Linked DNA regions of Homo sapiens. The protein of the gene in region 2 interacts with the protein of the main gene of each other region in a pairwise test. Each region holds a gene or a part of one and is shown on either strand. Other genes may lie near its edges.

The links.
Region 1: the proteins of PLSCR4 (region 2) and ABHD17A interact in a two-hybrid assay, tested with the Homo sapiens proteins (one large-scale study listed by BioGRID).

What each region holds. Positions count from the first base shown.
Region 1 is NC_000019.10:1,879,138-1,882,546, reverse strand, and holds part of ABHD17A (alpha/beta hydrolase domain-containing protein 17A), read left to right. Parts: exon of another isoform or gene 1-742; 5' UTR 743-980; coding exon 981-1,312; intron 1,313-1,498; coding exon of another isoform or gene 1,499-1,651; intron 1,652-2,431; coding exon 2,432-2,626; intron 2,627-2,688; exon of another isoform or gene 2,689-3,409. UniProt on the Homo sapiens protein: Hydrolyzes fatty acids from S-acylated cysteine residues in proteins. Has depalmitoylating activity towards NRAS. Has depalmitoylating activity towards DLG4/PSD95. May have depalmitoylating activity towards MAP6.
Region 2 is NC_000003.12:146,206,099-146,209,914, forward strand, and holds part of PLSCR4 (phospholipid scramblase 4), read right to left. Parts: intron 664-3,816; coding exon 428-663; intron 1-427. UniProt on the Homo sapiens protein: Catalyzes metal ion-induced ATP-independent rapid bidirectional and non-specific movement of phospholipids (lipid scrambling or lipid flip-flop) between the inner and outer leaflet of the plasma membrane and participates in the redistribution of phospholipids between membrane leaflets.

The DNA.
Region 1 (3,409 bases), on a different chromosome or scaffold from region 2:
CTCAGGAGGGCAAGGGACTCGCCCACGGTCACGGAACCCTAAGTCAGGGGTGGAGAAGGACCCCCTGACGCCAGCCCACCTCCCCTGCCCCTCAGCAGGCCTGGCTCCAGCACAGAGAAGAGCCATTGTTGCTGCTCTGGGGGCCCTAGGAGCCTGGGATGTATCCTGCCTTTGTTTCTAGAGCCTTTGTTTGTTGTATTTCCTCTGTCTCCAGACATCGCAGGCCGGTGGGACCCGGCGCCTGTGCACGCTCACGTAGCGGGGCCTGTTCGGGTCCCTCGTGGGTCCCTTCAGTTCGAGCTCTGTCCTTGCCTCAGCGGCCCGTCACCCATAGGGTGGCAGAGATGGGCCGGGGGAGGGAGTGGGCAGCAGTGCGGACCGAGTCCTGGCGCATGGGGTTTCCCTGGTGCTGGAGCCGGGCGTTTCGGGGGTGTGGGCGGGGCTGGGGTCATATCCCCTGCATGCCCCGCATGCCATGGCTGTACTCACATGGCAAGAGGTGGTGATCGCCAGCTCAGGGAAGGTGGGGGTTCCTTCATCCTGTGGAGAGGGGGCTGAATTGGGGTCCCCTGAGCTGTAGGGTGCAGTGCCTGACAGGCCGTGGGGAGGGCCGAGGGGATGGGGACTGACAGGCCCCGGGCCCATGCCGCCCCCTGGCACGGGTGGATGCCCCGCCTCCCGGGGGTGCCCAGCTGGACTGTGGCACCCCCAAAGGACCCCACATGTCACTGTTCCCCCGCAGGGCTTCCCACGGCACGACATGGAGACCTGTGGTTGCGAGGCTCCCTGGGGCTCGGCTTGGACCGCGATGGGGCTGGGCCCTGGCCTCCTAACGGGGCTGCTGTCTGGGGCGGTAGCTGGGGGGGCGCTCTCCCCCCTGCCCGCGACTCGGAGCACCCCCACCCCTCCCCTGCCGGGCCAGGCCGGGCGGCGTTGTTGGCGGGGGCCCCGGTGGAGGCCCGGCCTGGGCGGCGCCCGCCATGAATGGGCTGTCGCTGAGTGAGCTCTGCTGCCTCTTCTGCTGCCCGCCCTGCCCCGGCCGCATCGCTGCCAAGCTCGCCTTCCTGCCGCCGGAGGCCACCTACTCCCTGGTGCCTGAGCCCGAGCCGGGGCCTGGTGGGGCCGGGGCCGCCCCCTTGGGGACCCTGAGAGCCTCCTCGGGCGCACCCGGGCGCTGGAAGCTGCACCTGACGGAGCGTGCCGACTTCCAGTACAGCCAGCGCGAGCTGGACACCATCGAGGTCTTCCCCACCAAGAGCGCCCGCGGCAACCGCGTCTCCTGCATGTATGTTCGCTGCGTGCCTGGTGCCAGGTGAGCAGCTGTGGCCGCGCCTGGGCTGGGTCACCCTGTTCTTGGGGCTCCCGTTTCTGCCTGCGGTGCTTGGTGTGGTTGGTGGTGCCCCCGAGGGCCCGAGCCTGCCGTGAAGGGCCATCCAGCCAGCAAGGGTGGTATCCCCCGTCAGGCCGGCCTCGTCCCTCTGGCAATTTTCTCTCGCAGACAAGGACACCAGGCTCAGGGAGGCCATCCCCAGCTGGCATGGGTGGGCAGGCTGGGCGACTCCAACAACCCAGCGCCTGGTGGTTGCCTGCTGGGCAAGAGCTGGGGCACAGGGGCTGCCCTGGCCTGCGGGTACATCCACCTTCTCGCCAGGTGGGGTTCTGACCAGATCTGAGTCCAGAGGGCGAGCCTTTACCTTCTGGCTGGGCTAGGTGGGGGCCTGGGGGAACTGGAGGAAGCAGTCCATGGCAGGGCCAGCCTGGCCACCTGCTCCTGGCACCACCTGGGGCAGCTCCCGTGCTGGGAAGCAGACAGGCCTTGCAGCACAGCCTTGGGGCTTGGGCAGGGTGGTGGGCCAGGAGGGGCTGCATGAGTGTGAGCAGAGATTGGCCGCATTTGCTTGTTGGGGGCAGGGGTGGGGTCCAGTTGTGCCCCAACAGTGAGGGCACCATTCTGTGAGGTGAGGGGAGATAGCCCTGCCAGCAGCAGCATGGGCTCCCCTGGGAAGGTCCTGAAAGGTGGGCCTGTGCGCTCCATCCCCGGGGGTCCAGGTTCTTCCAGGAGGAAGGGCAGTGAAGCCTGCAGTATCTGAGCACACACTGCGAGTCTGCCCTGAGAGAGGATGCGACCGATGGTCCCAGTGTCCCGCTTCACAGATGGGAATCCTGAGGCTCCCTGGCTGGCCTCTGCAGCCCAGGCTGCCTGTCCCCCTGCCAGCTGTCCTGTCCTCTCCCCATGGGGAACCCTCGGAGATGGAGCTGTGCTGTCGTAGCCTCCCCTCTCCATTCACTGGCTTCTGGCCCCCTTGGGAGGGGAGTAAATGAGGCACTGGGCATGGCTGGCCACCGGGGTGGGCTGTCACTACGCATCCTCCTGCCCTGCAGCTGGGCGCTGGGAGCGAGGATGTGAACGGCCCTTCTCGGCCTGTCCCAGGTACACGGTCCTCTTCTCGCACGGCAATGCCGTGGACCTGGGCCAGATGAGCAGCTTCTACATTGGCCTGGGCTCCCGCCTCCACTGCAACATCTTCTCCTACGACTACTCCGGCTACGGTGCCAGCTCGGGCAGGCCTTCCGAGAGGAACCTCTATGCCGACATCGACGCCGCCTGGCAGGCCCTGCGCACCAGGTGAGGGCGACCCTGGGGGCAGCTCAGCCTGGGCACACCCAAGAGGGGACCAGGCGGGGGGCCGGGGGGCGGGCTTCCCTGGGAGGAAGGTGGGCGGCCCTGCAGGAGGGGAGCCACAGTGGATGCACAGGGCCAGAGAGCCGGACAGGCGAGCTTGGGTGTGCAGGTGCCGCCTCCACATGGCTGAGGTGTGGCCAGGCGGTCCTCCCACACCCTGGCCTGTGGAGCCAGGTTCCCTGGGAACCCCTGGCCTGAGGATGGGAAGGGGCTGAGCTTGTCACAGGGGTGTGGATGCCACCCGGCGGGAGGGAGTGGGTGGTGGTCTGGGGGTCTGTGCACGTGTGGCTGGGAGCCCATCGGCCGAGGCAGCACTTGGGGCCAAGTGAGGCGAGGCTGCTGCATCCAGGTCCGGAGGACTGGCCCATGAGGCCCTGTGGCTGCGGAGCTTGGCCATCCTGGGGCAGGGCCTACAGGGTAAGGTGCAGACCCGCAGCACACATCCGAGGTCTGGGCCAGCCTCGATTCCAGATCCAGCCCTCCTAGTCATCCACGTCCCCAGCCCTGCGCTTGCCTGGGCCCTTCACCGGTGTTTGAGCACCGCCCGGGCCAGTGCTGCTTTGGACGAGGAGACCCGGGTGGGCCTCTGGTGGCTTTTCCTGCTCACCATCCACTGGGCCTGTCTCGTCCTGGCCCTGCCCAGCCCACTGGTCTGACCTGCTCCCACAGGGACCAGGCACAGCTCTGAGAAGTCAGAGGCCCTAGGGAGGTGGGGTCGTCGTTGCC
Region 2 (3,816 bases):
AAATGATGGGTGGTGGTAAAAAGCAATGGGCTAAGGCACTCAGTAATTTACCCACTGTATTGTGTTTTGTTCTCTTTTGTGCTTTTTTTGATGTTAACTGTTTACTTCTAAGCAAATAACACAACTATCCTCTATGATAGTTTTTCTATTTCCATTTGTACAATTCTTTCAAGAAAACATCTTGAATGCCTTGAAGTTCAACATAAATCCTTATGAAAAACATACTCATCCCACTATAAACATCCTTGTACTTGCTGTTTCCCCTTCATATTTCTGAAACTGGTATCACTGTTCTTATAGTTTCACAAATGGCATCTGTCATCACTGACCCATCTCCTTTATTCACTCTGGTCTGCTTTTTTTCTCTCTTTGTTGGATCCCTATGGTCACATTTCATAAGAAAATAATTTGTATTTTCATGGAGTACCTGAACTAAGTATTCCAGACCAGGAGGGCAGTTTGCCATAGGAGTTGGCCCTGGCATCCATGTTATTGGAACAGACTGATTTGGCATAGGATATTTGCCAGGCTGATACCGGACAGGATGGATACCACCAACTGGCTGGTACAAAGGGAAGGTACTGGGTTGCTGTGGACTGTAGTATCCCATAGGCAAGCCTCCTGGGTAGCCAGTAGGTGGAGGGACAGCTGTTCCAGGGGGTCCTGTGTTCAAAAGAAATCAAAGTGTTATATATTATTAACACTAAAGTTAGCATAACTTTTTACATGCGATGAAATAGATCACACGACATCCACTTAAATATAACAACTTGTTCCATTTTTGATTCACACTTTATGCAGATCATGGTTGCATATGACCCAACGATGTATTAGGGAGACTTATTTACATATTAATTCATTTAATCCTCTTAAAGCTTATAAGATAATTATTCCCATTTCAATGGTACAAAAATAAGTTTTGAAACATTAGAAGAAACATGTTAGCTTCTTAATAAATTAGGTTCCTCCTTGGAGATAATAAACTTACCTAATGAGGTTGTAGTGGGATTAATTACTAACGTATTAATTACTAACGTATAATTACTAACATATAATTACTCCTGCAAATTTTTGTTATTATGTCTATTGTTATTGTTTGTGGTTACATAAATAATGTCTACTTCATTTCAAAGGAGTGCTTTTAATGAATATTTTAGGTTGCCTTGACCCAATCGCTTGTACATATCTTCATCATCGAGTTCTCAGACTGGTCCCCAATCCTGACCTCTTTTAGATTCAATTTCTTAAAGTTATTTTCTTAGTAGTTATGCTGCTATAACAAAATAAGCACAAACTGAGTGGCTTAAACAACAAGCATTTCTTTCTTATAGTTCTGGAGGCTGGGAAGTTCAAAGATAAATGTTAGCATGGTCAAACCTGGTGAGAGCCTTTCCTGGTTTGCAGATGTTCACCTTCTTGCTATATGCTCACAGAGTGAAGGGGGAGAGAGAGAGACAGAAAGACAGAATCCCTCTCATGTCTCCTCTTATAGGGTATGAGTGCCATCATGAGGGCTCCACTCTTTTGATTTAATTTTCTCTGAAAGGCCCCACTTCCAAGTAACATCACATTGGGAAATGGGACTTCAATATGTGAATTTGGGAGGGATATAAACATTCAGCCCACAGCACTTATCCCTCTATCATTTCTCCCCATTCCACCTTCAATCAGAGATCTGATGAATTATCTTTGTCATTATAAGTCCATCAAGGAACCTAGATTTCCTTAAATGGATACAAGATTTTATCATGCTTTAAGAGCACAGTCTACATATTCAATGCAATTCCCATCAAAATACTATCACCGTTCTTCACAGAACTAGAAAAAACAATCCTAAAATTCATATGCAACCAAAAAAGAGCCTGCATAGCCAAAGCAAAACTAAGTAAGTGAAAAGAACAAATCTGGAGGCATCACATTACTTGATTTCAAATGATACTATAAGGACATAGTCACCAAAACAAGATGGTACTGGTATAAAAATAGGCACATAGACCAATGGAACAGAATAGGGAACCCAAAAATAAACCCAAATACAGCCAACTGATCTTTGACAAAGCAAACAAAACACAAAGTGGGGAAAGGACACCCTATTCAACAAATGGTACTGGGATAATTGGCTAGCCACATGTATGAGAATGAAACTGGATGCTCATCTCTCACCTTATATAAAAATCAACGCAAGATGGATCAAGCACTTAAATCTAAGACCTGAAACTATAAAAATTCTAGAAGATAATATCAGAAAAACCCTTCTAGATATTGGCTTAGGCAAAGACTTCATGACCAAAAACCCAAAAGCAAATGCAACAAAAGCAATGATAAGTAGGTGGGACTTAATTAAACTAAAGAGCTTTTGCACAGCAAAAACAACAGTCAGCAGAGTAAACAGACAACCCAAACACAATCTATACATCTGACAAAGGACTAATATCCAGAATCTGTAACGAACTCAAACAAATTAGCAAGAAAATACAAACAATCCCATCAAAAAGTGGGATAAGGACATGAATAGACAATTCTCAAAAGAAGATACACAAATGGCCAACAATTGTATGAAAAAATACTCAGCATCACTAATGATCAGGGAAATGTAAATCAAAACCACAATGTAATAACCCCTTATTCCTGCAAGAATGGCCATAATCAAAAACTCAAAAAATAACAGATGTTGACATGTACGGAGAACAGGGAACACTTCTACACTGCTGGTGGGAATGTAAACTAGTATAGCCACTATGGAAAACAGTGTGGAGATTCCTTAAAGAACTAAAAGTAGAACTACCATTTGATCCAGCAATCCCACTACTGGGGTATTTATCCAGGGGAAAAGAAGTCAAAAAAAGATACTTGCATATGCATGTTTATAGCAGCGCAATTCACTGCTATAATACGGAACTAGCCCAAATGCCCATCAATCTACGAGTGGATAAAGAAAAATGTGGGATTACATATATATATGATGGAATACTACTCAGCCATAAAAAGGAATGAATTAATGGCATTCACAGCAACCTGGATGCGATTGGAGACTATTATTCTAAGGAAAGTAATTCAGGAATGGAAAACCAAATATTGTATGTTCTCACACGTAAGTGGGAGCTAAGCTATGAGGATGCAAAGGCATAGAAATGATACAATGGAATGGACTTTGGGGGCTCAGGGGTAATGATGGGAAGGGGGTGAGGGATAAAAGGCTACAAATTGGGTTCAGTGTATACTGCTTGGGTGGTGGGTGCACTAGAATCTCACAAAATATCACCACTAAAGAACTTACTCATATAACCAAATACCACCTGTTCCCCAAAATCCTATGGAAATAAAATATTTTTTAAAAAGAGTACTCATAAAAATGAATAAGCACACAACAGCTAATGTTTGACTTTAGGAATTTTTTTATCAAGGTCTCTTAAGATAAGCAGTGGTAACTTTGCATTTCACTATGTTTTTTTAAAGTCAAAGAATTGCCAACAATAAGTATGAGAATGCCATTACTGCATATCTATCTAGGTCTGGTTACCAGGAATTTTTTGAATAACTTTGATCATTACTAATTTATTTTTGTTTCACTTTCCAAGTTTTTAAGATTAATTAATTAAAATTTATAAATAACTGGGTCTTGGTTGTCTACCCAGAAATATGCAACAGACCCTAACTTATTGCTAAGGTCTTGTAGCTCTAACTGAAATCCTGTGAGTAGTAGAGCCACAAGCAGCCCACAAGTGATGTTGTCTGAACTGTCAGGAAGGCCAGGCTCAGATAAAGAAAGGTTTTTCTCCTTTAAGAGAGAATTTAAGGAATAATGTCCTGTGGTTG